2 linked regions of the Homo sapiens genome follow. The protein of the gene in region 1 interacts with the protein of each later gene in a biochemical or structural test. Each region holds a gene or a part of one and is shown on either strand. Other genes may lie near its edges.

Evidence for each region.
Region 2: the proteins of PPP5C (region 1) and CRY2 form a complex in vitro, tested with the Homo sapiens proteins (one study listed by BioGRID).

Annotation. Positions count from the first base shown.
Region 1 is NC_000019.10:46,381,251-46,395,730, forward strand, and holds the end of PPP5C (serine/threonine-protein phosphatase 5), read left to right. Parts: exon of another isoform or gene 1-1,274; intron 1,275-2,160; coding exon 2,161-2,226; intron 2,227-2,529; coding exon 2,530-2,628; intron 2,629-3,553; coding exon 3,554-3,659; intron 3,660-5,842; coding exon 5,843-5,985; intron 5,986-6,115; coding exon 6,116-6,203; intron 6,204-7,157; coding exon 7,158-7,198; intron 7,199-7,302; coding exon 7,303-7,481; intron 7,482-8,800; coding exon 8,801-8,882; intron 8,883-9,033; coding exon 9,034-9,096; 3' UTR 9,097-9,725; downstream 9,726-14,480. UniProt on the Homo sapiens protein: Serine/threonine-protein phosphatase that dephosphorylates a myriad of proteins involved in different signaling pathways including the kinases CSNK1E, ASK1/MAP3K5, PRKDC and RAF1, the nuclear receptors NR3C1, PPARG, ESR1 and ESR2, SMAD proteins and TAU/MAPT.
Region 2 is NC_000011.10:45,847,550-45,862,640, forward strand, and holds part of CRY2 (cryptochrome-2), read left to right. Parts: coding exon 1-156; intron 157-8,432; coding exon 8,433-8,541; intron 8,542-11,181; coding exon 11,182-11,324; intron 11,325-13,298; coding exon 13,299-13,483; intron 13,484-14,510; coding exon 14,511-14,599; intron 14,600-15,091. UniProt on the Homo sapiens protein: Transcriptional repressor which forms a core component of the circadian clock.

The sequences.
Region 1 (14,480 bases):
TGTTGTCCACCTTTTCCACCAAGTCCTTTCACACATTTACCATGGTTATCTTAACGTCTCTGTCTGATAGTTCCATCATCTGGTTCATCTCTGAGTCTGCTCTGTTACCAGTTCTTCATGTGTTTTACAATTTTATTGTATGCCAGCTATTTTGTATAAAAGAACATTAGAGACTGAGGTAAATAAAGTTTTTCCTCAGAAAATGGCACACTTAGGCTGGGCACCATGGCTCAGGCCTGTAATCCTAGCACTTTGGGAGGCCAAGGTGGGCAGATCGCTTGAGCCCAGTAGTTCAAGACCAGCCTGGGCAACTTGTAGAAACCCCACCTCTACAAAAAAAATACAAAAATTAGCCAGGCATGGTGGTTGGCACCTGTAGTCCTAGCTACTTGGGAGGCTGAGTGGGGAGGATCACCTGAACCTGGGAGGTTGAGGCTGCAGTGAACTGTGTTCGAGCCACTGCACTCCAGCCTGGGTGACAGAGTGAGACCCTGTCTTAAAACAAATAAACAAATAAGAAAATGGCACACATTTCTCCTGTTGAGCCACAAGAGGGAGGGGCTGTGTGAACCTCATCTGTAGTTTAGGGGCAGCTTTTATTGGAGTTTCTTTACCACCGGCTTTAAATGTGTTCAGAGTAGAATTAGGACTTTCCCTTCAGCAGAGCTTGGGATCTTAGCCCTGGCAGAATTCCAGGGATGTCTTTATGTTTTAAAGTCGCCAGCTTTTGGAACTGTGGGAGGCCTCTGGTATTCAGCCCTGCCGCCAGACTGTGGGGCCACTGGGGTGCTCTCCGCTCTCCAGTCTCGCCCCCACTTCTGTACCTCAGGAGGTTTCTCTGCACCTCACTCCCTCGCGCCCAACCTTCCATGAAGCCCGTGTGAGGGAGTTGGCAGGGGGCAGAGGCGGGCTGTGCTGGGGCTCCCTGGAGTCCTCATCTGTCACGCCAGTCCCCACACGGTCATGAACTTCCACTCATTTCCCCTCACGCAGGGCATCCCGCCCTGCTGCCTCGCACCAGGGTGAAAGCTGTGGGCTCCTTCCCCAAGGAAGGGCTCGTCCTGTCTGCATTTTGATTAATTTAGGTCCCTTTGCATTGCCAGCTCTCAGATGGCTTTACCTTTGATTTTGTTGCTTGTTTGGCTTGTTTTCATCTTTAGGGCGAGACAGTCTTTTGTAACTTTTCTACCTTCTGACTAGAAGTGGATGCCGCCTGCATTTTCTTAACACCTTTTTCCCCAGCTTATTTTGGAAATCGTCAGACCTACAGAGAGCTGAAAGAACAGTACAGTTAACATCTGTCCACCCTTCACACAGATTCACCACTTGTGAACATTTTAATGCATTAACTTTATGTGTCTGTCTACTTATTTATGCATTTGTATGTGTATACTTTTTTCTTTTTTTTCCCCTAACCCATTTGAAAGTAAGTTGCAGCCATCATAACCTGGATCTCCCAAAAACAAAGACGTCCTCTTGTGTGACCACAGTTGAATTGTCCTACCTTAGAAATTCATCATTGATGTGATAATACTGACTAAGGTAGACAGTCCACAGGCCATCCGGAAAATCTGGAAACATTGACAAATATGCATGTCATTGTCAAGGTCATATCCAATCTGTGAAAAATAAATCATCTGCATTTCTAGACATCTATTAGTATTTTAATTCTCCCCAGCTCTCCCCAAAACATCCTTTTTAGCTGCTTTTAAAAAATTCAGCGTCCGTTGAAAGCACCAGTGTTGCCTATGACCTGCCTTTTTACCTCTTTTTACCTAGAAAGTCTCACTTCTTTTTTGGGAGACTCTTTTATGACAGTGACATTGCGCTGTGTCCAGGCCAGTTCTTTTATAAAATGTTCTACGATCTGGATTCATGCATGTATTTCCACTTGATGCTGAGTATTTTAAGATAATTCAAGAATCAGGTTTTCGTACAAAACAATCGCAATGCTTCGGCACTGCACAGGCCACAGAAGCCTGCGGCTGCCTCCGGCCCCGCCTGCTCCCGCTCCCCCAGGCCTGCCCTGCCCTTTTTCTTCTCTCCCTGCTTCTCCCTCGCCCTCAGCCCAGCAGCGTCTCATGGGCAGTCCAGGCTTTCGGGGCCAGGTTGGGCAGCAGCCCCTGCAGCCGGTCCCACTGAGTCTGCCCTGCCTTCCAGATTCTGGTACAGGTCAAAGAGGTCCTCTCCAAGCTGAGCACGCTCGTGGAAACCACACTCAAAGAGGTGCGCGTTGTGGGGCAGTGCGGGGAGGGCCAGCGGGGGTGGGCTCTCTGGCTGGGGAGGGGCCACAGAGCTCAGGAACTCACGGATCCACCTCCCTCTCTCCCTCACACCCCACCCCTGTGCCTTTCCTCCTGAATATCCCATTTCTCTCCTGGCCTCTTGGTCTTCGTTTGTGTTCCCTGCTTGTGTCTCTTGCATGATTCTTCTTGGTCTACTGTGAACTCTTACCCTTCCCCTCACCTCTGCCCCCTCCCCACGTCTCTCTCTCGGCCCGTCCCTCTCCGGTGGCCTCTTTTCTTTCAGACAGAGAAGATTACAGTATGTGGGGACACCCATGGCCAGTTCTATGACCTCCTCAACATATTCGAGCTCAACGGTTTACCCTCGGAGACCAACCCCTATGTATCCTTCTCAGCAGAGCCACCCTCTCCCCACCTCCACCCCCAGCCGCAGCCTCAGGTCTGCACAGAGTGGGAGGAGCCCTTGCCAGGAAAAGACGTGACCTTGGAAAGGAGAGGCCTGGCCATGCTGGGGCACCAAGGTGTGGGTGGAGCTGCAGGCTGGCCATGCACCCCAGGCTCCAGGCTCGGACAGGCCTGGGCCAGCACCCACCTGCTGTGTGACCTAAGCTGGTAGCTCAGTCTCTCTGGGTCTTGGCTTGTCTTCGTCTGCCTCAGGATCACATTTGAATGGCACCTGGCACTGGCCACACTTGGGTTCCATCCTGGCTTTGCCACTTCCCAGCTGTGTGACCGAAGCAGGTTACTTCACTGCTTGGTGTCACAGTTTCCCCATTTGCAAAGAGGGATAATAATATGTGCAACCTTGTTACTCAGCAGTTACTGAGAGGACAGGTTAAGAACAGGGCCTGGCCCACACCTGATGCTATCTAAGTATTTCCCCGTGTTATGGTATCTGCTCGATGAACGGCCACTTGTAGGGCCACTAGGCCTATGCATTGTTGAGTGGGAGGGCCCGTGTCCCATCTCCCCCATGGCTCCAGGCCTCTCTGAGGAGAGCTGAAGGAGGTGGACTGACTAGTCCCCGCACCTCCCCGCCACTGGCTTTCCGGGAGACAGGAGGCAGGGTCCTCAGTGCCATACTACTGAGGCTCAGCGGCCAAGCTCTGGCTGGAGCCACGGTGAGGAAAGGATTAGAAACCCAGATCCCTTGAGCCCTGCCAAGTCCTCACTCCCTGGGAGGTGCTGACAGGAGGCTTGAGGCCAGGCAGGAGCAGCCCATCTGGCCCATCTTCTGCCACCACCCCCAACCCCACCGCACCGCACCCTTCCCCTCCACGCTTGCCATGTTTTCCTCAGCAGGACAGATATTTAATGGTGACTTTGTGGACCGAGGCTCCTTCTCTGTAGAAGTGATCCTCACCCTTTTCGGCTTCAAGCTCCTGTACCCAGATCACTTTCACCTCCTTCGAGGTGAGCTGGGAAGTGACAAGGTTTGGGTTCATTGTGGGGTCCTGAGTGGGGCACTCACTCTGCAAGGATAATAGTTGCAGCTGTATTTATTTTGTGGACTCGGAGATCATGCACAGGGCGACCTTTTAAGATTGAGTATGTAGTGCACTGCACAAAAGCATCACACCAAAGGACGCGTTTACATCATAGATAGTGTAGAAATGGATGTTTACTCTGACCATTTTTCAGCAGATGGCAAACAAGGGTGTGAGGATGGGCCCCTTATTCTAATTTGCACAAGGGCATGAAACAGGCTCCTGGGTGGCCCTAAATCTGGCACTAAAGCTGAGTGACTGAGTGAACAGACCAGGGCTCGAGGGTGGGAGTAAGGAGACTGTTGACGAGGCAGTTGTGCCCCCTCAGATTCAGGCTTGGTGTCAGATTTGGGTTCTCTTGATTGAAGTAGAGCCCGGAGCTGAGTGTGCTGGTTCACACCTGTAATCCCAGCACTTTGGAAGGCCCAGGTAGGAGGATCACTTCAGCCCAGGAGTTTGAGACCAGCCTGGGCAACACAGTGAGACTTTGTCTCCAGTAAACATTTTTTAAAAAGGCCAGGCGCAGTGGCTCATGCCTGTAATCCCAGCATTTTGGGAGGCCAAGGCAGGTGGATCATCTGAGGTCAAGAGTTCGAAACCAGCCTGTCCAATGTGGTGAAACCCCGTCTCTACTAAAAATACAAAAATTAGCCGGGCATGGTGGTACACGCCTGTAATCCCAGCTGCCTGGGAGGCTGAGGCAGGAGAATCGCTTGAACCCAGGAGGCACATGTTGCAATGAGCCGAGATTGCGCCACTGCACTCCAGCCTAGTCGATAGAGTGAGACTCAGTCTAAAAAAAAAAAAAAAAGCCAGGCATGGTGGCACCGTGCACCCGTAGTCCCAGCTTCTTGGGTGGCCAAAGTGGAAGGATTGCTTGAGCCCAGGAGTGTAAGGCTGCAGTGAGCCATGATCACACCGCTGCACTCCAGCGTGGGCAACAGAGCAAGACCCTGTCTCTTTGAAAAAAAAAAAAAAAGTAAGAAACTTGGAAGTAGAGCCCAGAGTATTTGCTGGAGGAACAGACACAGGTGTGAGACAAAGAGGGAACGAAAGGGGCCCTCTAGGGTTTTGGCCGGAGTATCTGGAGGGCTATGGCTGCCAGTGACGAAGACGGGAACATGTAGAGCAGGGTGTGGCCAGGAGCTGAGGAGCTCCCCTTTGGATGTGGCTGAGACTCAGGAGACATGGGATGTGGGTGGGGTTCCAAGGGGTGTTGAAAATGTAGGTTTCTTGGTGTCCAGATGAGATTAGACAAGAGGAGCTCACTGGGATGTGAGGGCCACACAGGGGAGGCCCTGCCCATGGCGGGGCCGGGGTGAGTTGGGAGGTGAGTGATAGGCTGGGGCGAAGCCTGCATGCCCGTGTCCCTGGGCTCACAGGGTTCACGCAGCAGTGTCCAGCACAGGGTCAAAGCTCAGGAAGCCCGACTGTGGGCCTCGTTGCAGGAGGCAACAAGTGCTCAGGCCGAGAAGTCAGACAAGCAGAGTCTGAGCAGATGCGAGACTGGGCAGCCTTCTCCTTGCCCCCAAGCTCTGGAAGGGAAGAAGGAGGCCGGGTGCTTGTGTCTGAGACAGAAGGATGGAGCTCAGGGTGGGGTGGGCTGGGGCACATGTTCTGTAGATGGGCCTACTTTTTGGTTTTGAGACGGTCTTGCTTTGCTCTGTTGCCCAGGCTGGAGTGCAGTAGCATGAGCATAGCTCACTGCAGCCTCTGCTTCGTGGGCTCAAGTGATCCTCTGGCCTCAGCCTCCCAAGTAGCTGGCACTATAGGCACGCACCACCATGCCCAGCTAATTTTTAAAATTGTTTTATAGAGAGGTCTCAGTATATTGCCCAGGCTGGTCTCAAATTGCTGGGCTCAAGCAGTTCTGCCTTGGCTTCCCAAAGTGCTGGAATTATAGGCGTGAGCCATGGTGCTTAGCCATGGACCTACTTTTTGTCAAGATTCCCCCCTTGGTACCTCCAGTCTGGAAGGCACCGCAGTGGCAAGTGCGAGGCCCATGGGGGCAAGGGACGCATGCACAGTTCTGGGCCTTGAGGGTGCCAGGCTGGAGGACACTGATGTACCTGGAGGCTGAGCTTTCTCTTCTGTCCCCGTGTTGGCCAGGCAACCACGAGACAGACAACATGAACCAGATCTACGGTTTCGAGGGTGAGGTGAAGGCCAAGTACACAGCCCAGATGTACGAGCTCTTTAGCGAGGTGTTCGAGTGGCTCCCGTTGGCCCAGTGCATCAACGGCAAAGTGCTGGTGAGGACGGCGCGAGCCCTGAGTGTGGGTTCCCCACCCAGCCACACCTGGGCAGATGTGCTGGTGAAGGAAGTTGGGGCCTGTGGGTGGGTGGCACCTTCCCTCACAGCGGCATCCCCCATCTCCCCAGATCATGCACGGAGGCCTGTTCAGTGAAGACGGTGTCACCCTGGATGACATCCGGAAAATTGAGCGGAATCGACAACCCCCAGATTCAGGTGAGCAGCGCGGGGCCAGGTGTCTCCAGCAGAAAGGGGCAGCCTGGGCTGAGCTCTCCCCTGCAACCCAGCCCTGCCTCGGAGGATGGGCTTTGTGCCCTTGGCAAGAAACAGCGGGTCTGAGCCTCAGTTTCCTCACCTGCGACTTGGGCCAGTGCACCTCCTTCATGGGGCTGTGATGGCAAGCACGGTCGTGACCATGGTGCGGGGTGAAGGCACGGTGACCGCCGAGCACACCTGTCCTTATTTATTTGTGAGTTCAGCTGTGGAACCCTGGAAGGAGGGGAGGTCTTGGGGCTCCTGTGCTAGTGACGGGCACACTTCAGAGAGTTCACCCACAGGTGCACACGCACGTGCACACTGTGAGTGCTGCAGAGGACATGGATTGGGTGGGCTGGTGCTGGGTGCTCAGGAAGGCCTCTCCAGGGAGGCGAGGTTTGAGCTGACACTGCGGGAAGCAGAGGCATCTGCCGTGCACAGAGCCTGGCGAGCATATTCCAGGCTTGAGGAGGGGTCCTAAGGCAGGGAGAAGTTGGCGAGTGGGCAGGGCTGTGCTTTGAGGGCTGACATTGGACATGGGGTTCACTGGGCCCAAATCCTATGGCGCTTTACAGGCCCCAGTGAGGAACTTTGTTCCTAGGGCAGTGCGGAGCCACCAAAGGCTTTGAGTGGGAGAGGGGCCTGATCTGAATAGTGACATTGAAAGCTCTATCTGGCTTCGGGGCCACAGGGGATTGAATGGGGTCTGGAGGGCAGATCAGCAGAGAGGGTGGGGGTGGCTCAGAATCACAGTCACCTGTCCTGAATGTCCATGTCCATGCTGGATGTCCCCTGCCCAACACCCACCCAGGCTGGGCTGTGGGGTCAGCACCTGGCCGGGCCAGGAGGTGGCCTGTGAGTGACCACCCCCGGGGAGGTGGACGAGTCCCTAATGTTTCCCTCGCTCCCCACCAGGGCCCATGTGTGACCTGCTCTGGTCAGATCCACAGCCACAGGTGAGTCTAGGGTGGGGTGCAGGGCCGGCGGGTGTGGGCTGTGGCAGCAGGTGGAGGCAGACAGTCACCCTGAACCCCTGTCTCTCCCTTCTGCCCACCCTCAGAACGGGCGCTCGATCAGCAAGCGGGGCGTGAGCTGTCAGTTTGGGCCTGACGTCACCAAGGCCTTCTTGGAAGAGAACAACCTGGACTATATCATCCGCAGCCACGAAGTCAAGGCCGAGGGCTACGAGGTGGCTCACGGAGGCCGCTGTGTCACCGTCTTCTCTGCCCCCAACTACTGGTATGTCTTTGCCTTTCCAGCCCAGGGCCTCTACCAAGCCACGGGTTTTTGTCTTGGTTTTTGTTTTGCCTTTTTATGATGGAACATTTCAAAGACAGGCAAGAGCAGATAAAAGAACATGACGAACACCCCCGTATGTGTCACCCACCCATGCAGCACCAGTGGGGCCAGCCTGTGAGTGCTGACCAGCTGCCCTGTGTTACAGCAAGCCCCTGGCACTTCACCTTTCTCCCACTGATTGCCCAGCACTTTTCAGAAGGAAAGGGATCTTTTTCTTAACCACAATATCGTGTTTACACTTTTGAGTGCTGGCTGGGCATGGTGGCTCACGCCTATAATCCCAGCACTTTGGGAGGCCGAGGTGGGCGGATCACCTGAGGTCAGGAGTTTGAGACCAGCCTGGCCAACATGGTGAAACCCCATCTCTACTAAAAATACAAAAATTAGCAGGGCGTGGTGGCACACACCCGTAATCCCAGCTACTCAGGAGGCTGAGTCAGGAGAATTGTTCGAACCCGGGAGGTAGAGGTTGCAGTGAGCTGAGATTGCACCACTGCACTCCAGCCTGGGGAAGAGTAAGACTCCATCTCAAAACACACGCACACGGGCAAGAGTAAGACTCCATCTCAAAACACACACACACACACACACACACACACACACACACACACACACACACACACACACACACACACACACACACACACACACACACACACACACACACACAGTGTTGATCCCTTGCCCCCACCCGAATCCTGCCAAGTTCTCTTTCTCCTGGTCTCTCCTAAGTGTCTTTTCCAGCTGACTTCTTCCAGACAGGACCTAAACAAGGACCACATTTTCAGTCTCTTTGCCTGTGAGTTCCCTGTCTCTCCCCACCCGCATCATTTATTTGTTGAAGAATAGGTTGCTGCCTGCTGTACGAGTCACCTGTGTCCTGGACTAGGCTGACTGCATCCCCGTGGTGCCGTGTGACATGTTCCTCTGTTCCCTGCATCTCTGGGTGGGCAAAGCTAGAAGCGTGGTCAGATTCCTAGTGGGGTCTGGCGAGCATCCACCTCCATGAGCTATGCCCTGCCCCTTCCTGCTCCTGCTTCCTGCACTCCCACCCTCTTTTCCCCATCCCCATCCTCCTGCCCCTCCCATTCTTTCCCCTGGATTCGTCTTTCCCATCTCTGTCTCTCTGTCCATCTGTGTCTGTTGTGGCTCTGTCCCTCCCTCTCCCTCTGTCCCTTCTTGCCCAGCCATTCCTTCTCTTAACCCACCAGCCCCACCCAGCCCTGACCACACTGTCCACTCTGCTCCTGTCCCTGCAGCGACCAGATGGGGAACAAAGCCTCCTACATCCACCTCCAGGGCTCTGACCTACGGCCTCAGTTCCACCAGTTCACAGCAGTGGTGAGTCACCCCTCAGGGCCCCTGCCCCTTCCATCCCGGCCTGGGGACAAGGAGGCTGAGACCCTGGTAAGGGGCAGGGGTAGGTTCTGCCGGTGGGTGCTCAGGGGCTCTGTTCTGACTTCTGTCCATCCCACCTGCCCTGGTCCCACAGCCTCATCCCAACGTCAAGCCCATGGCCTATGCCAACACGCTGCTGCAGCTAGGAATGATGTGAGGTGACGGGCGGGGCGGCCTGCATCCCAGGGCCCCTCCAATCCCACCGGACCCAGGCCCTGGGCTAGGGGCAGAGCAGGCCCCGCCCCAGGGCAATGTTGGACCCCCTTTTACTTTGTAAAGTTTGTATTTATTCCCCTTTAGGTTTGCAGAGGGGGTAGGGGCAGAGTCAGGGGCTGGCCAGAGGGTCTGCTCCCTGGACAGAGAGGAAGGAGGTGGAGCAGCTGGGGCTGGGGGCACAGCCTGGGCATTCTGTGGGGAGGCCGTCCTCGGGGTGGGGTGGGGCCGAGTGGCTGCCCTGCCCCCCTCATTTGCATGGCTCCTCCCCCACTCAAGCAATAGGGCCCCGCCATAGGAAGACCCCCAGAGAGAGGGTCAGCAGGGGGGCCCCGCCTGCGCCTCCCCTCCTATAGCCCCATGGTGGGGCTAGGCTGGGGCTCACCCCCCTCCCCAGCTATTTTATGTCTGTAATTAAATATGTTAAAATAAAGTCATTATCGGAAGTCAGCTTGTCTCTGGATGGTGGAGCCGAAGGAGCTGCCCGGGTTGGGTTACGCCTGCTCAGGAGATCCGGAGGGTGGGGAGGCCGCAAAGTCCCGCTGGCCGGGCCCACCCAGCTCTGGGCTGACCGCCCAAGTGGCCTCTGCCTCTGCCCAGCACCGTGGGCTCCTGGGGAGAGTTCTGCCCCCTGGGTGGGGCGATGAGGCCAGCACTGAGTGGAGCGGAGCGGAAGCTGAGGCATAGCCTCATCCTTTGCTGGCTCCAGCAACAAGCATGACAGTGCCGCTCCCTGCTCCCTGCTCAGGGTAGGCCCAGCAGTGGTTCTTGACATCACACGATGAGGCGCGCATCTCCCGTCATCCAGGGAGACCAGAGGACCCTTGTCTCACTCCCAGTTGGCTCTTAGTCACAGGTAACGTTGGATTCCATTCAGGCTGCCCTGCCAGGCCTTGACCCTCCAGAGAGATTGTGTTTTCAAGTTTGAGCTCCTCTGGACTCAGCTTTCTCCAGTGGTATGTGGCACTGGGGGATGGTCTACAGCAAATGACTCCTGCAGGGCCGAGTCCGGGAGTGTTTGGCCCTTTGGAGACCTCCCAGGCAGACATGAGGCGTCCGCGGTCCTGATTGCGCGTAGGCGCTGGGGAGGTGTTCTCTAAGGCCCATCAGCCTTACAGTAAGTGCACCGCCTTCTGGGGTCAGGTGCGCCACGGTCCAGAAGCCAAGTACACATGGCTTCAGGAAAACAGGCACGAGGCCCAGGTTGCCAGTGCCATTCATTTCTCCTGGGAAAGACAAAAACAGCCACCATGACTGTCGGGAGGGTGCTTCAGACCTGATGGGAGTCAGCCAGGCGGGCAGCTGTGAGGCTCTCAGACTCACTGGGTGTCGGGGTTCCCTGCCGCTGCAGTTCAGGAGGTCTCCCAGGACCCGGTATGGTCATTATCCTCACAGTGAGGGCCTATTATAGCAAGAATATGGGGATGAGAATGAGAGGAGGGAAGAGGCAGGCGCAAGCGTCCCACTGCCCTCTCCCGTGGAGCTGTGTGGACAGCGCTTATTTTCCCCGCATGGATGCGACAGCGTGCTGGAGTGTGGCCACCTAGGGAAGCTCACCCGGGCCTCTGCATCCAAGGTTTTCTTCAGGGGTTGGTCATGGGGACTGCTCACCCCGCGTGGCTGACCGTAGCCTCCAGAGAGACCCACGGCCCCCACCCTAAATCACATCCTTAGCATAGACTGTCCACTGTGGCCCAGGGCCCCAGATAAAGAGACGCTCCTATGAGGTAGGACACACCGAGGGCTCTCCGGTGACCTCCCAGGAGCCAGCCTTTTCTTCCGTCAGGGCTGCAGCCATGCTGCACAGCTGCATAACAAACACCCTAACCCCCCCCACCCCCTCAGCTTCAACAACGAATGCCTTGCTGTCTTCCTCAGTTCTGTGATTGGCTGGGCTTGGCCGTGCAGGGCGCACCTGAGGGCTGAGGCATTTGTGGTCGGGGGCATTTGGGGCTGGAGGCATCTGAAGACTCGCCCGGCTGGACTCCGTGGGGGCTCACTCCCGTGACGGCAGTTGCTGTGGGCTGTTAGCTGGGCTGGCACTGGAACGCCTGCGTGTGGCTTCCATGTGGCCTGAGCTTCTCTCAACGTGGCAGCAGGGTCCCTCAAGGGAGCATTAAATGTTTATATTTAAGTCAACCAACTGCATTCCAGCTGTAGCTCTTGCCTCAGCAATGTCCTGCCACACATTCAATTGTCTCTTTCATTTCCTTCAATCTGGAACATTTCCTCAGCCCCGCTTTGTCTTTGACATGGACGTTTGTGATGATCACGTTCCTCCCGCTCCCCGTGTCTGAAGAGTGCTCCCTGACTGGCTGCCGTCTCCTCCCTGTCGGGTCTGGCTGGGTTCTCCAGAGGGAGTGCTGCGGAGGGGACACAGCAGAGGCCCCATGCTCGTGATGTATGTTGCAGATCATTTTCCCCCATTCTGTCCTTTTTTGTTAAATTGTGGTAAAAAGCACATAACATAAACTGTACCACCTTAACCATTTGAAAGTATATATCCCAGACTGTCTTTTATCTTTAGACTTCACTTGTGGTTTGTTGCCACAGTACAAGTTTATTTTTATGAAGCCAAATGTATCAGTATTTCTTTAATTGTGCTGGCGTGGGAGTCAGTACTTCTCCCTACACCCGGGTTTCAGGGAAGTTCCCTCGGGTTTCTTCTGGTTTTTGTACAGTTTTCTTCTTTATGTCAAGATCTCCAGTCTATTTGGAGTTCCTTCTTGTATGTGATGTGAGGAATGGATCTAATTTTATCTTTTTCCAAGTGGATATTGGAGGAAGTTTTTAAACGAGAAGAGAAATTCAGAAGATGCTGCAAGAGATGGGACCTTTACGGCGATCAATGTCTCAGTAAAGTCAGAACAAAGAGACTCAGGCACACCCACCACAAGTACCAAAACTTTGAGCAGATCAACGCCACAGAGCTGGGCTCGGGAAAACGGAAGGGCCATGGGAGGGAGGGAAAGCATTTAATGGGGGAAGGTCTGGGTAAGCCGATAAGTTTTGGGGAATCAAGGGGGATAAATACACGTGAGTAGGGCTCTGAAGTTAGAGGCAATGAATTGACCAAAAAGAAACAGTAACTTCCAAAAGGGAGTGTGACGGAGAGATGCCCATAGACGCAGGTGATGAACATCCAGGGCTGGCCGGGCACGGGGGCTCACGCCTGTGATCCCAGCACTTGGGGAGGCCGAGTCATGTGGATCGCTTGAGCACAGGAGTCTGCTAAAATAGGGGACACCACTCTAGTTACAGTTTGGATCAGGGTCATCACGCTGGGGACGTGCCAGGCACACGGAGGTGGGGGAGATGCTGGGGGCTGGGGGCAGGTGTGGACACTAAGCAATGGTGTCAGAGGCTGCTGGGGAGTCTCAGGGTCTGGCAGGAGCAGATGTGGACTCCCAGGAGTCATGGACATGAATTAGGGGTCCTAAGAAGCCTCGCCACTGACAAAGGAAGCTGTGAAGGGAAGACCAGAGAACCGGGGGGAGCGGGGGTCTTAGGTGCTCCCCACCCCATCGACCAGGATGGACCCAGGCATCTGCCCAGCTGGATGGAACAGAGACTCCAAGGCAGGAAGGACCCGAGTTCTGTCTCCCTGTCGTTCTCTTGGACCCTTTCACGCTGTCTTTCCCCACCCCCATCTGTCAATGGCCATGATTAGATCACAGACCCAAGCTCTGGCCACCAGGGAAGGCAGAAAGATGACCTAACCTCCATAGCACCGGGTGGGGCCCCTGCCTCCCACCTGTGGGGGGTGTCAGTTGCTTGGCAGCCAGAGGGACAGAGGCCACCACCCCTCCCCTCCCGGCCAGCACCACAGATGGAGAAACTGGGCCCATGGTTCCCTCTGCCCACACCCTCCCATGGCTCTCATCTCCGTGGTCCAGCGGATGGGGGGAAACAGGTTGAGGAATTTGGACACTGGAAAATGGGTGGAAGCAGTTAAAACCTGAGGGGACCAGGAGGGGCAGGGTGGGCACCCATCTCAGATGAGTCGAAGAGCAGCAGGGTGATTTTCCATGCCCGGCCCCTTGGCTCTGTTCTAAGAGTTTACACGCATTAACATTTCATTCTAACTCAGTGAGTCAGACACTTTTCAGATGCCCATTTTACAGATAAGCAAGATAAGAAGTACAGAGAGGTTAAGTTACATGCTCAGAGTCACACAGCCAGCAAATGGCAGAACGGGACTTGAGCACCAGCTGACTGGCTGCAGAGTCTGTGCCCTGAGCCAGTTTGCAGTAGCATTGAGCACTTTATGTGTCAGGCAGTTTACAGGCACTTTGGGTCCTCGCAACAGCCCCATTTTACAGATGAGGAAACTGAGGCACAGAAGCAGCAATATACCTGAGGACACACAACTAGGAAGGAGGATAGAGCATATTCGGTGGGAGATAATAAAACCTTTGATGCCAAATGCTAAAATAATATTTGGGGAAAAGCTTTTGACCCCTTTTAGCAAACAAAAATTTTATGATGGCAAGAATTTATCCTGCTGGTTAATCTGATTTTTCCCTTTTTAGTACATGGGTGTTCCCTAACCTTACCCCTGAAGAGAAAACTCATGACTTCCCCCAGAGCTGTGCATTCTCAAAGCTTTTTTTTTTTTTTTTTTTTTTTTTTTCCTGAGATGGAGTCTTGCTCTGTCGCCCAGGTTGGAGTGCAGTGGCGCAATCTCGCTCACTGAAGCCTCCCCTCCCCCTCCTGGGTTCAAGCCTCGTAAGTAGCTGGGATTACAGGCGTGTGCCACCACGCCCAGCTAATTTTTGTATTTTTAGTAGAGACGGGGTTTCCCCATGTTAGTCAGGCTGGTCTCGAACTCCTGACCTCAAGTGATCTGCCCGCCTCGGCTGCCCAAAGTGCTGGGATTACAGGTGTGAGCCACTGCGCCCGGCCTCAAAGCATTTTTGTTAGCGGTCTTTTTAAGATTTCTCCACCGGGTGTGGTGGCTCACGCCTGTAATCTCAGCATTTTGGGAGGCCGCGGCGGGCAGATCACGAGGTCAGGAGTGTAACACCAGCCTGGCCAACATGGTGAAACCCCGTCTCCACTAAAAATACAAAAAAATTAGCCGGGCATGGTGGCACGTGCCTGTAATCCCAGCTACTCAGGAGGCTGAGGCAGGAGAATTGCTTGAACCAGGACCCAGGAGGCGGAGGTTGCAGTGAGCCGAGATGGCGCCACTGTATTCCAGCCTGGGCTACAGAGCGGGACTCCGTCTCAAAAAAAAAAAAAAAAAAAAAAAAAAAATTTCTCTTGTAACTGTTCTGTGATTGTCCACTGTATGGCGCTAGGGGGCGCTGTAACACCACGGTGTTT
Region 2 (15,091 bases), on another chromosome or scaffold:
CAGCGCCTCTTCGGTGCACTGGTTCCGCAAAGGGCTGCGACTCCACGACAACCCGGCGTTGCTGGCGGCCGTGCGCGGGGCGCGCTGCGTGCGCTGCGTTTACATTCTCGACCCGTGGTTCGCGGCCTCCTCCTCAGTCGGGATCAACCGATGGAGGTGAGGGGACCCGGGGCTGGGTGGCGGGGACGCAGCCAGGACCCTGACCCTGGGGTGACCGGCGAACAGCACGATCCCCCCAACCCCGCCACGGCTGGAAGGCCAGAGGGGAGAAGCCGAGACCGGGGAAGTAATTCGTCATGGTCCTAACGCGCCGGTGGGCCAGGGTTCAGCCTCTGACAAAGCGCGTTCGCACTGTTACCCCTTTGAGCCTCACAACTGCCTGTGGAACGGAGATCATGATCCCCGTTGTACAGATGAGACCCTTGAGCCCTGGAGACCCAAAGTCGACCTGCCCAAGGACTTGTAGCCAGTGAGTGGCAGAACAGGGGCTCCTGGTCTAGGGCTCTTACGGTCTACTCAGGGAGGGGCGGAAGGGAGATAACGTAGTGTGAGGGCGGGACGGGTTTTTGCTCGCATTCTTCAAGAGCCCGTTGCTGGGCTCGGGGAGATCACTCCGAAGCCTCTGGCTCGTTTGAATCCGCCCTACCACCCATCCTGGCTACCCTGCACCCAGACCGTCCTGCCTCTAGGGGTGTCAAGTGACCCTGGCTTAGCATTAAATAAGGTCTTCTCCCCTATATTATAAATAAAGAAGCCAAAGGCGTCTTCAGGTGGAGTCGCTTTATGTTCAAAGCTCCAGAGAATCCAGGGGATTCTCCAAAATGTTTTAAGCCCTGCTCTGGAGCTTTGACCTCGATAGAAAAATTTAAAAGAATCCAAAGTGTCACCCCGTCATCCTCTTGTCATGATTTTAGAGGACAGTAGAGCCATTAGAGATGAGACTTTTATGAACTGTTGTGGTAAGGTTAGGGAGCAGGAAAGCCATGATATCAAGGGCCCCTCTGATGACCCCCCAGGAGATGGAGTCGACATGATCATGGAAAAAGATGAACAGGTCGTTAGTGTATTTTCACTGTAAACAGTATTCAAACTAAAGAGTTTTGAGACATAATGTACCCATCGCTCTTCAGAACACCTAGTGGCAGTCGCTCGGTTTGTTTGCATTGTTCTGGGGAATGTTTGCTTGTGGCCTTGTTGCATCGATGGACAGGGTTATTTCCAGGATACCGTGGCTCTCGGCACACCATTCTTTTCTCTCCAAGGTGTGTGCCCTGCTAAGAGAGTGAGTGCTGCTAGCAGTGGGCCTGTTCAGTGTCCCCTCCTGCCCAGAAGGAACAACTAAGGAGTCCTGTGGAGAGCCTGCCCACAGTTTTCAGGCTGCCTTATTGCTCTGTCTCTGCTCCAGTTTTCTACAGATAGGAGGTTGGGTTTGACAAGCATCATCAAATGACCATCCCTAGTGTGCACATTAAGCCAAGCCTCAGACTTTGCCCTGCACCAGTCGGAGCCAGGCAAATGGAATCCGACTACCTTCTTGTTACATTGTCACAGAGTTTCTTCTTTTATTGGGTTTTGGGGGACATTGCATAGTACTGCCTACTCTTTTTTGATAGGGAAGATTAAAAATCAACAATAAAATTCCTGTTGATTAAACTCCAGTTTGCTAGGAACCAGGTGTTTATGGATTTTTGTGGGTCATCATTTTGTGATCGTGCTATCAATCTAGTGAAGAAGAAAAGGAATGTGGCTCAGATGCCTGAGTCAAATCCTGAAGTCAGAGGCTGTGTAAGAATGCAGATATTAATTGATCACTTAATAAGTGCCTAATATCTGCCAGGTACTGCTCTAGATGTTGCTAGGGATACAGCAGTGAATAAGCAGATGTGTCTGTGCTCCAGAACTCCTGGAGCCTACATTTTACCAACAAACAACCATAATTTAGTGAAACGAAGTGCCATGAGAAACATAAGATAAGGGGACAGACTAGAGCAGTGGTTCTCAATCTTGGCTGCTGTGCATTGGAATCCCATAAGGGTCTTTAAAAGATACCTGGGCCCCTTTCCCCCAATTCTATTTTTTTTTTTTTTTGAGACGGAGTTTTGTTCTTGTTGCCCAGGCTAGAGTACAATGGCGCAGTCTGGACTCACTGCAACCTCCACCTCCCGGGTTCAAGCAATTCTCCTGCCTCAGTCTCCCAAGTAGCCAGGATTACAGGTGGCCATCGCCACACCTGGCTAATTATTTTGTATTTTTAGTAGAGACAGGGTTTCACCATGTTGGCTAGGCTGGTCTCAAACTCCTGACCTCAGGTGATCTGCCCACCTTGGTCTCCCAAACTGCTGGGATTACAGGGCATGAGCCACTGTGCCCAGCCCCTTTCTCCCAGTTCTGTTAGAATTGTTCTGGGTTATGGCCTGGGCATTAAGGTTTGGGGATTTTTTGTTTTGTTTTGTTTTTTGTTTTTTTTTTTTTTTGAGACGGGGTCCTGCTCAAGTGACAACCCAAGCTGAAATGCAGTGGCATGATCATAGCTCACTGCAGCCTTGACCTCCTGGGCTCAGCGATCCTCCTGCCTTAGCCTCCCAAGTAGCTGGGACTGCAGGCATGCACCACCATGCCTGGCTAATTTTTGTATTTTTTGTAGAGATGGGGTTTCACCATGTTCTCCAGGCTGGTCTTGAACTCATGGGCTTAAGCAATCACCTGCGTCAACCTCCCGAAGTGCTGTGATTGCAAGTATGAGCCACTGTGCCCGGCCTTGGGCATTAAGGTTTTTAAAGCTCTTATTGCAGCAAAGCTTAAGAAGCACTGGACTAGAGAACCTCAGTCCTGAGACGGGCAACCTAGGAAGTATGTTGCAGTGCATTGGCAGGAAGTCTAATTAATGTTGGCATTCAGAAGAAAGAGATGAAGTAACACAAACAGATTGAATATAATAACTGCTCCTGGGCCTGGAAACAGACACACTCCTACCACCTCCACCATTCTGCTTGCTTCCTGGATCAGTTGAAGGCAGAGCTGCATTCTCTTTTGTGCACAAAGTTGGGGATAGAGGGGAGGGCTGGAGCCAGCCATATCTTGACATGACTGTAGTATGTGTAATCGTCCCGTGGTTGTTTCTGGATTCCAAGAGTGGTCTAAGAGAATTGTGCTGCAGCATAATGTCCTAGCTCTGCAACTGCTTAAGTTGTCTCTGAGAAGCCTCCCTGGGAAGGGCAAGGGACCATCTGCAAGGAGGGGAGGACCCAAAATCTGTGACTCTGTTTCCCTCCTGCTCCTTCTACACTGACTCCCACACAATGTTTTTCTGCAGAGGAAATCAGATTAAAATAACTATGAATGGCACTAAGAGTAAAAACGGACAGAGAAATGCAACCAAGAAATACACATATTGATTAGCAAGAAGAAGCCTAGCATACTTCTTGCCCTGGTGATGGTGGGAAGTTTACGGGCTAATTGTAGCTATATGAGCCTCAGGACTTTTTTTTTTTTTTTCCAAGTGCTACTTGGCTAAGCCCTTTCACATTTTCCCCAGCCTCACCTTCCCCAGATTTGCTACATCTAGAAGGAGGTACTGCAGCAAGAAGATAAACTAAAGGAAGATGTGAGCAGTTCCTAGATTTTAAAATGACCTCTGTGGTTTTTCATTACCTTTCTCTCCCCACTGCAACTTGGATAGGTGTTAGCAACAGTTCCTCTTCCACTTTATTTAAATCATTTTGTCCCTGGCTCTGTGCTGCGCCTCTTTCAGGAGCTTCTGGGACAGAGGGAATTTGTAGAAATAAAATATGTTCCCTCTCAGCCCATTTCTCTTAGAATTGGTAAATGAGGTAAACTGGGAACTTCCCAGGATGCCCCATGAGAACAAGTGTGTCTCTCTTCCCAGATGCTGAGAGCTGAACACTGTTGGACTGTTGGGAAGTGGATTGAGAACGCTAGTCTACTGGCAGGGAAACAGGAGCTTCTCTGAGCTATTCACATTGGTACCTGAGAGAGGCACTTTACTGTTCTGCTGCCAAGGAAATGTTTCTGTTTGCCCAAAGGGGATAAAAACCTTCATCTTTCTCTTTGAAATTAGGAAAGAATAAATATATTTTTAAAATAATAAGAATTTAATATTTAAGTATTTCTAAATATCACTCAGATACTTAGAAATAAATCCCTGCCAGAGATTGTGAGTTTAGGTTATCCTTTTCCATGGGGCTTAAGCTCTCTTAATTACTTAGGAAAAATTAATTTCTATTAATATCCTATGTAGCCAATCTGTGCCAGCCAGTGGTATCATCATCGTTGTTAGATAACCTTGCCTTGAAGCAGAGGAACTTGGTCAAGGACAGCCTGGACCCAAAAGAATTCACTGTTATCCTCCCTCCCCCCATTAACAACAAATAAATAAAATATTCCTCAACACAGGATCAGCCATTCCTAGAGAAGGCCTTCCCTAAATATGAGTACTTAATCAAAGGATCTGCTTGTTTTATTCTAAAAGGCTAGCCTTGTAGAGTCCCTGAGTTATAGTGTCCTCTCTATATTTTTGGAAATCCCAGTCTGGTTTTCTCCAGTTCTGCCTGCCTCTGGCTCCAGAGCACTTACATAATAATGTAATTCAGTTGCACATGTTGTCTAATCCAAAGGGTAAGCTTTGCTCTCCCAGGACCATGTGCTCTGAATTTTGGCCATGTGAGCTCAGCTAAGAGCTGCCAAGGGTGAAGTGCCAGCCCCCAACACCACCATCTCCAATGCCCAGGCCAGTTTCCTTCAGAGTCCCCTCATTGGAGTAAAGAGAAATTGGAGTAAAGAGGAGGGTTCTAAGGGACCACAGAAGGCCCAAGGTTCTCTCTGGTGAAAGAATGCATATACCTGCCCACTGAGCCTTTGCCCAGTCGCAGCACTGCTCCAAATGTGAGGGACAGCTGTCACCTGGCAGGCCTCAAAGGTAGTACCCTAGTGGTGGCTTCTCATTCTCTGCATTCTCTGGCTGCCTGGAGTCTGGAGATACTGGGGACCCTCCTCACATCCCTGTCTATTGCCTCCGTGTGGTGGCTGTCCTGAGCCCTCCCTTCCCGGGTTGACTCGGGAGGGAAGTTGGAAGAAGCAGAGCATTTCTAGCAGGCCAAAGGGGAGGCAGAAATATGGATGCTCAAGAGAGAAAGTTTAGTACAAACAAACTAGAAGCAAAGAAAGGCAACTTGTAACAGAGACTAGAAGTAAAGTTCAGTTTTCTAGAGTAGTGCTTGTGAAACTTTAATATGCAAATGAATCACCAGGGGATCTTGCTAAAATACAGATTCTAATTTTGGAGGTCTGGGTTAGAGCCTGAGATTCTGCATTTCAACAGACTCCTGGGTGTTTCACAGCCAATGCTGCTGATTGTCAGACCACACTCAGAGGAGGAAAGATCTGGCAGCAGAGGTGTTGCTGGCCTTTGAGTTGGCCTGTGGTGCTCCCTAATGGCTGAGCCCAGGGCAGCACAGCCTCAGTGCTCTGTTTGTTGAGAGGCAGTGGCTGGCTAAAAACGAACATGTCAAGCCTGACAGATTGCCTAGGTTTGAATTCTGGCCACTTACTAGGTATATGATGTTGGGCAAGTTTCATAATCTCTCTATGCCTCAGTTCCCTCATCTATAAAATGGGAATAATAATATTACCTACTTGATTGGGCTGTTTGAGAATTAAATGAGGTAATGTATGTGAAACAAGTAGAATAGTGCCTGTCATTGTAAATGCTTATTAAATGTTAATCATTGCCATTATTATCATTATTTTTATTTAGTTGCTGGGTTCAGAGTTGGGCCTTCTACCAGCCTCACATCTCTGCTTCCTGCTATAAACATCTTTTGTGAAAGAAGAAAAGGGCTCTCATAGGATTAGCTGTACTTTAGAGATGCTACGAGGAATCTCTCCTTTTAGTAAATGAGGTCTAAAAATAAAGTTCTATAGAAGGCAGATTGCTACATGTTCTGGAACCTAGATTTCATGTGCATTCCAACCTTATTTATAGCTTCAAATCAAAGTCCTATGCAGCCTGGTGGACTGTGAAGGAAAAGACCCCCAAAGCGCATGGCAAGGACACTCCTGGGAGCTGCAGATGGAGGACCCTGTGTCCTGGGGTTATGAAATTTAAATCACTGCTCCTAGCCCTAGGCATTCTACCTGGCAGGGTCCAGGTTTCAGATGGCATGAGACCATTTGCATGGATTTCTCTTCTTTTCCTTCCAGAAGAGTGGTGAGGCTTGGGGGAGGCCAACACAAGTGACGCACTTGCAGCTCCCTGTTCCTTTTCTGGAGGTGACAATTTTTCAAAAACAGAAATTCACAGAGGTGGAGCTTTTGGTTTGCATAAAGCAGCATTCAACCTGTTTGTCTTCCATCCCAACCTCTCAGAGAGTCTTCCTCATGCTCTTTTGCAAACATGATGCTTTGAGCCGAGGCCAGGGCTCAGCCCATGCTAGAATGTGGGTCGGTGGCATTGGCCGTAGGAGTGTGTCAAGTTGTGTACGTCAGAGGCAGCAGTGGGGGCTGGTTCTAGTTGGCAGCCTGGGAATAGTCACTGCTTCTGTAAGCCTCCAGTAGTCAGGGAATGTGACTGTGATGTGCCATTTCTATTGTTGACAGAGAAAAATGCTGGGGATGGGTGGAGACCCAAGGGGTAGATAGCAGGTGCCTCAGAGGTATCTGTGACATATGCAGATTGACCTGTGGGTTCTTGAAGAAGAAGATAAGAATGCCAGTGGATTACCTGTAGTCACATTGCTATTAGAGAACAGGATTCCAAACTCCTGAGGGCCTGCAGAATCTCAGCCCCTGGAACAGAGTTGGTGTGCAACTAGAAATCTTTAGAAATGGGGCACAGAACCCTCACGGTGGCTCACGCCTGTAATCCCAGCACTTTGGATGGCTGAGGAGGGCGGATCACTTGAGGTCAGGAGTTCAAGACCAACCTGGCCAACATGGTGAAACCCCATCTCTACTAAAAATATTGTTTAAAAAATTAATTGGGTGTGGTGCACATACCTATAACCCCAGCTACTCGGAAAGCTGAGGCAGGAGAATCGCTTGAACCTGGGTTGGGGAGGTTGCAGTGAGCCGAGATTACGCCACTGCACTCCAGCCTGGGCGACAGAGCGAGACTCTGTCTCAAAAAGTAAATAAATAAATAAAAAAGGGCACAGAGAGGAAAATGTGGGTTTCAGAGTGACCACCCTAGGTTCCTGAATCCCCAGCTTTGTCACTTAACAGCTATGGTCTTAGACAAATTAATTCACCTCTGAGTGTCTCAGTTTCCTCATCTATAAAATAAGGATGGTACTATTTCCTTCAAAATAGTTGAGAGAATTAAATGCAGAAATGCACTTAAAAAGCATGACAGAACCAAAATCCCATTGATAACCTTGGTTGCCTCTGGGGAGTGAGGGAGGGGAAAACCCTTTCTACTATGTACCACTTTGTCACTGGAATTTTGAGCCACATGAATAGTTTATCTGGTTATAATGTTAATTTAATTTAAAAATAAAACGCTGAAGGCACTCAGCAAATGTTAATGTCCTTTCCCTTTCCCCTGGTGATCCAGGTCTCCTGCTGAAGTTCTTGCCTAGCTGCGGTCTTCCCCACCCCCACCCCCACAAAAATGTGAAGATAGCTATTGAGAAGTACCTTTTAAGGCCTTCTCCCTCTTGGGATGAGAACCTGATCACCAGAGCCCTGGAGAGGCCTGGAGAGTGAGCCACCTGCCAAACAAAGCTCTGGGAACTAGGGACCCATTGCAGGCTGTGAGGCTGTGGCAGCAGAAATACGCATGGCCCAGAGCATGCATGCAGAAAGTCAAGGAGTCTTTTCCACCAGAGTAAGGAGGATTTTCCCGGCTGTGGCAGTCTGGTCCTCTGCTAAGAGGACCTTAATGCTTCATACCACAGTATTGCACTGGCTTTTCAGATGGCTCCCACGTGAGTCTCACAACAACCTCATGCTGGGCAGATACTTATATCTAGCCCCAGAGACTGCGAGGGAGTAAGTGACTAGCCTCTGATCACACAGAAACACCACACTAGGAACAGCTCACATTTATCTCATGATGTCTGTGTGCCAGGCACAGTGCTAAATGTTTTTCACACATTATTCGATTTTCTTTTCTTAGCAATTTTATGAGATGGGTACTAACATCAGCTTCACATTACCGGCGAGAAAACAGGCAAAGAGGTTAGGTTATTGCCTAAAGTCACACAGCTAGTAAGTGGCAAGACCAGGGTTTGAAGCAGAGCAGCGCTGATCCACTACCACATCCCTCCTGGGCTGGAACCCAGGCCTCTCCAGCCCTAGTGATCATGAGGCTGCCTGTTGGGCATAAACAGCGAACCAGTTTCTCCCTGCTTTGTTAGGAAAGAGAGCCACTCTTCATGATGTTATCACTAACAAGGCCTGTGTGGACTCCACAGGTTCCTACTTCAGTCTCTGGAAGATTTGGACACAAGTTTAAGGAAACTGAACTCCCGCCTGTTTGTAGTCCGGGGACAGCCAGCCGACGTGTTCCCAAGGCTGTTCAAGGTAAGCGTGCAGAGCCCCAGAGAAGACAGTGAGATTCTGTCCCTGACGGTTTCCCCACAGCCTGAGTGATATGATATTCCGACTGAGGGAATGGAAACATCAGGGCTGGTCTGGCTGTTGCTGCTAGAGAAGTTGGGAGCAAAGGCAGCCAGTTAGCTTGCTCTTGGAATGGAAACTGTGTTAAGGAAAAAAATTCTGGGAAACCAGTGTCTTGTTGGAAAGCTCTCAGCTCAGTCCAGACATAGGATGTGGTAAGTCATTCCACTCTGGATGCCACTGGCTTCCTTCAATGTTTTCTTGGCTCAAGCCAGCCAGATTTATTAGGGTTCCTTCTAGGCCAAGACTTTGAGGTGGGGTTTCATGTCTAGCAAGGTACATTTCCCATCTTGCTTTGCTCTGCTTATTGGGAAAAGTCAGCCTTTTCTGCCGGGCGAGGTGGCTCACGCCTGTAATCCCAGCACTTTGGGAGGCCGAGGCAGGCGGATCACGAGGTCAGGAGATCCAGGCCATCCTGGCTAACATGGTGAAACCCCGTCTCTACTAAAAATACAAAAAATTAGCTGGGCATGTTGGCTGGCACCTGTAGTCCCAGCTACTCGAGAGGCTGAGGCAGGAGAATGGTGTGAACCCGGGAGGCGGAGCTTTCAGTGAGCCGAGATTGTGCCACTGCACTCCAGCCTGGGCAACAGAGCGAGACTCCGTCTCAAAAAAAAAAAAAAAAAGGTCAGCCTTTCTGAGGAAGCTTTCTTGTTTCCCATGGGGTAAATGATTGATAGAAATCTTCATTTTGGTGCCACATAGGTTTCTGTTTGCAGTAACGGGGCCAGTCCACTTTTCCCTCAATCCCTTTAAAAAGTATATTCTAAGGCCCACATAGAAGCACAGGAACTCATGGACAGAGGGCTGTGGGACAGACTGCCATCACCCTCAGCAGCACACAATGATTGTCATGCCCCTCCCCACCCTAACTCCGAGACAAAAGGAAAAGTCATGTCAAGGCAAACAGCTTAGTGAATACATCATCCTTCAATTCCCCTCCCCGTAACCCCACACATAATTGTGCATACATGTACAAATCACACAGTGCTAGTAATTGCCCACATTCATTGAGGGCTGCCTATGAGTCAAGCGCTGTTCCCAGTGCTTGTTTACATCAACTGAGTTCTTCCTCACAGCAGGCCTAAGAGGTGGCTACTGCTATCCCGATTTACAGGAGAGGAAACAGTCATTGGTTGTGAAGTTAATAAGTGACGATCTTGGATTCTGACTCTAGAGCTGTATCCTTACCCACCATACCATATAAATACATTTGCCTCCCTTCTCCCCTCGACATTGCCCTTTTTCTCCCCCAGCAACTCAGAGGCCAACCCACTTATATCCCAGAGATATAGCTAGGTCATCCATTCAGTCATGTAATGTATTTTTATTGAGCTTCTGCTAGGTACTAGGCCCCATACTAGGTATAAGGGTAATGATGATGAGTGAGACAACATGGTTTCTGCTCTGAGAGTTCACACTAATAGGGGAAACAGGCAAGTGTATCATTGTCATATAATACATGCTGCAGTGGAAAAAAGACAAGGTGCAGAAGAATTATATTGAAGGAGGAGGTCAAGAAGGCTTCTTGGAGAAAATGTAATTTAATAATATTGTTATTCACAGGTTACAATGAGTATTCAGTGATGTAACCTATATGAACTATAAGCATGGTACCTGGCATATAGCAAGGGCTCAATCAATGTTTAATGCTGATATCCTCGAATGAGGGATAACTGGCCCTGCTAAGGACCCAGTCCCCGGGCAGGGCTGAGTCAGGACCAGACCAGCCTGTGCATGGCTAGGACATTTGCCCCTGTGGTTCAGAGCTTTCAGAGACTATGACCAGAGACTTTGGAGAATGTGTTTTTCTTCTTGCAAGTTGCATGCTCTAGGGCTTTCTGTGGGTTGACTGTACAACCATTCACTGGGCCAGCTTGCTATGAGATCTAGAAATTCCTACCAGAAATGACTAAAGGCTTAGGAAAGAACTTCCTCCTTTTCAACATGTAGCCCCTCTGGTCAGTTTCCTCTGACCTCCAGACTAAGGATCGCTTCCCCTTTCCTGACTCTCTCAGGGCTGGAACCTATTAGCTCTGTTTGCTATTGGCCTCAGGAGTGTTGCTGTGGAAACAATTAAGACACTTCACATAGCACAACTCTGCCAAGAAAACTAGGCCACAAGTCTGCAGGGCTGTGAGGAGCTCTGGGAAAAGCTTGCTGAGCAGGCAGAAGGCTGTGGTCCTGTCCCACCTGTGAGTCAGTGCCACTCTCTGGGACTGGGGGTTTCCCAGGAGCGTTGTATTTATGGCCTCCTGCTGCATTCTCCTACCTCAAGGACACAGCAAGTGCACAAGGCTGCCTACCTCTCTCCCAACTCCACTGTTGCTGTGCTGTTGGCTTCGCCACACTGCCTGCCCTCCTCAAACTTTCTGAACCTCAGCTTGTTTGCTTTCCAGATCAAATCCCTGTTCCTAGTTTTTTCTGCTGCCCATCAGATAGGTCTCTAGACTAGCTCTGTTCTCTCCCAGGAAGGAACTGAGAGTCCAGCTTCCCCCTCCTCCCCAAACACAGTGTTGAGCATAACAGATCCTCTCCCCACAGGAATGGGGAGTGACCCGCTTGACCTTTGAATATGACTCTGAACCCTTTGGGAAAGAACGGGATGCAGCCATCATGAAGATGGCCAAGGAGGCTGGTGTGGAAGTAGTGACGGAGAATTCTCATACCCTCTATGACCTGGACAGGTAAGAGATGGGGCCCAGGGATCAGGTTACCAATTGTGAGAGTTAGTAATTTGGGCCCCTGCTGAGCGGAACTCAGAGAGGTTCAGCATTAGGGCTACCTGACCCAGGAGGCATGGCATCTTCTAGAAGCTGGAGGAGAATAGGCCAGAGTCAGGACCTGTAGAACAGGTCACAAAGAGCTTTACCCCATTGAGGTGGCAGAGAGGCTTGTTAGGCCCAAAGCATGGAAGCAGTGAGGACCCACACTCAGGGTATTTACAAATCTGCTCCTAGTATGCCCGAGTCCCACCTGTGCCTCATATTCCCACTTCCATCCTGCTCAACAGCTGCCCTCTGACCTCAGTGGACCCTGTCTGTTACCCCTCCAACAGACCTCTGTTCACACAGGTCCAGTTTTTGTACCTAAGATGAGTTCCTAGGCTGGGCATGCTGGCTCATGCCTGTAATCCCAGCACTTTGAGAGGATCACATGAGTCCATGAGTTCAAGATCAGCCTGGGCAACATAGTGAGACCCCCGTCTCTACTAAAAATAAATATATTAGCCATGCATGGTGGGACATGCCTGTAGTCCCAATTACTGAAGAGGCTGAGGTTGGAGGATCACTTGAGCCCAGGGGCTTGAGGCTGCCATGAGCTGTGATCATGCCACGTCACTCCAGCCTGGGTGACAGAGCAAGATCCTGTGTCAAAAAAAAAAAAAAAAGAGTTCCCAGGTTCTATGACTATCTGGGTTTCCAGGCCATGTTGCTTGGTGGCGGGGAGGGCTCTAGAGATCCCTGCAGGGAGCTGCTAACTACAGAGGAGCCTCCTCCCCTGGTGACAGCCTCTGTGCTTTCAGAGATTCTAGGAGGAAATCCTCTCCTCCCCTTCCCTGCCATGCCAGAGCTGTCACCCTCCTGCTGCTGCTGCTGCTGTTGCTGCTGCTGCCAAGCCAGCAGCCGCCGCCGCTCCCCACCCCCACTTCCCAACCCAGTGCTGGCTGCCAAGAAGCCAGGTCACACAGCTGTGCACGTGAGCCGGGCCCTCAGGAGGAGAGGCTGGGTGTGGAGATCCTCCTCCTGCTGCGTGCCAGAGGAGAGGGAGGCATAGCAGAGGCAGCAGCCGACCATATATCTCCACTAACGTGGGGAGAGCAAACTGAGAAATGAACTCACCCAGCCAGATGGGCCTTGCGTAAGCTACTTCTTGGCCAAGAAGAGCCCCGGGAATGTGGCTCCATACCATCCCAATTCATCCTTATATAAACAGCCTCCGTTCTCTTCTTCGCCCTCTGATACTCCTTCCTTCTTGCATGAGTGCAGTTATGTTTTCCCTGGTCATGAAAAATACTTTGTAAACTACAAGACTCTCTTTAAGTATCAGTTGTGGCTATGAACTCTAGCTCCAGTCTCTGAATTTGGGAGGATAAGCTGTCTTCCACCTCTCTGTTCAATGTTCTAATAAATGGAGGCTAAGAAGGGGATGATTTTCCAAGAAAGGAACATGTCTGCTATTCCTTATGATGTTAGAGTTAAAAAAAAAAAAAAAAAAAACATGTCTTCAGCTCTTATCAAAGAACTTTCTCCAGGGCTTACATGGGTGGTAGAGGCCTATGGGGATTCCCTTAGCTTGGACAGATAGGCCAAGTGCCAAGCAGGCTAGTAGGGATTTTTCTGTGATTAGAGATTTTGTCAGTCTCTGTCTTTAGGCGGCTCTGCGTCAACACCAGGGAGCCCGGAATTGAGTCCCAGCTCTGGCCCTGCCTTGCTCCATTACTGAGGCACCTGCTTCAGCTCTCTGGGCTTTATTTTCCCTCTCGGTAAAATGGAGATGCGGCCTCCCTTGCCCCCTCCTTTCCACTCAGGCATGGGACCTGTGAGTGGATGAGGAAAGCCACCCTCAAAGCCTTCAGAGTCTGGGTTCTTTTTTGGGTGGGCAGGGACCCACATCACAGGGCCATGTGGGTAACACTAGCTATGCTTTGGGCTCCCCAGGATCATTGAGCTGAATGGGCAGAAGCCACCCCTTACATACAAGCGCTTTCAGGCCATCATCAGCCGCATGGAGCTGCCCAAGAAGCCAGTGGGCTTGGTGACCAGCCAGCAGATGGAGAGCTGCAGGGCCGAGATCCAGGAGAACCACGACGAGACCTACGGCGTGCCCTCCCTGGAGGAGCTGGGTGCGTACTTCCTGCCCAGAGCCACTTGTGCTGGTGCCTGCTTTTGTGTAAAGAAATTCTTTGTGAAAGTAATGCATGTCATTATAGAAAGGTTAGAAAGCACAGGAAAACAAAAATGGAAATGGCAGTCACTATTACTCCACCACCCAGAGGTAACCACAATTAATTTTAAACTGTGTCCTTCTAGTATTTGTTCTGTTCATACTCATACATGTAATCTTCTGTTTCTGGTTCTAGATCATGCCTCTATTTTTGTACTAACCTCTCGCAGACAATACAGGCACTGCCTGGTGCTGGTGTCCATGGGCTTCTCAGTAACAAGATAGCTAGTATTGCTTCTGTTGAAAGCAGGGAATCTGTCAGCCTCTCAGATTACTAACTACACTCTTTCACCCCTCCCTCTTTCTTACCTTTTTTTTTTCTTTTTTAGACGGAGTCTGGCTCTGTTGCCCAGTCTGGAGTGCAGTGGCACAGTCTTGGCTCACTGCAACCTCCACCTCCCGGGTTCAAGCAATTCTGCTGCCCCAGCCTCCTGAGTAGCTGGGACTACAGGCGCCTGCCATCACGCCCAGCTAATATTTGTATTTTTAGTAGAGACGGGGTTTCACCATGTTGGCCAGGCTGGTCTTGAACTGGTGACCTCGAGTGATCCACCCACATCGGCCTCCCAAAGTGCTGGGATTACAGACGTGAGCCACACCTCCAGTCTTTTGATCTGAACAAAGCTATTAGCCTTTTTCACCTGAAAACCACAGTTGTTGCCAGCTAATCTGAAAAGGCAGGAGGTCCGGGATTGTTGTCATCTACCTGGAGCGATGAGGGTGCAGGGGAAAGCAGAGAAAATAGTGACTGTGGGAAGAGAACCAAGTTGACCTAGAAAACGCTAAAACTTTAAGGATTATCTAACCCCCAGTAGCACCGAGACACTGTGGTTCAATTCTCATAAAGTTCAAATAACAGAACAGCCGTGCCGGGCTATCACTGAAATGGTCAAACCTCCTGTCTTGTGACCTTTCCTTCTCTTCAGGGTTCCCCACTGAAGGACTTGGTCCAGCTGTCTGGCAGGGAGGAGAGACAGAAGCTCTGGCCCGCCTGGATAAGCACTTGGAACGGAAGGTATGGGCCGTTTCTGAGACACAGAGCTGCAGATACTGATATCCACACAGCAGGAGATACAGGTCATGTCCATGTCCTTTAGTCCCTCTTAGCTCACATTGTTTGGAAAATGAAAAATCCTCCTATCCTCCTGATGGCCATAACAACAGCAACACTAACAGCAACTACCATTTAGAGAGTACTTACCATGTGCTGGTCACTAGGCTCAGCATTTCTGGGTTAAGCACCTGCTGGCATTTCTTTTAATCTTTCCAATAGCCTGCAAGGTAGGTACTAAGCTGTTCATTCTACAGATTACAAAATTGAGGCTTAGAGAGGTTAAGTAACTTGCCTGAGGTCACAAAGTTAGTAATTACAGGTTGAGTATCCCTTATCCAAAGTGCTTGGGACCAAAAGTGTTTCAGATTTTAGATTCTTGAATTAGGAATGCTCACCTTATAACACAGTAAGACCTTGTTCTATGTTATTCTAAAGCTATGTCGGATTGCTTTT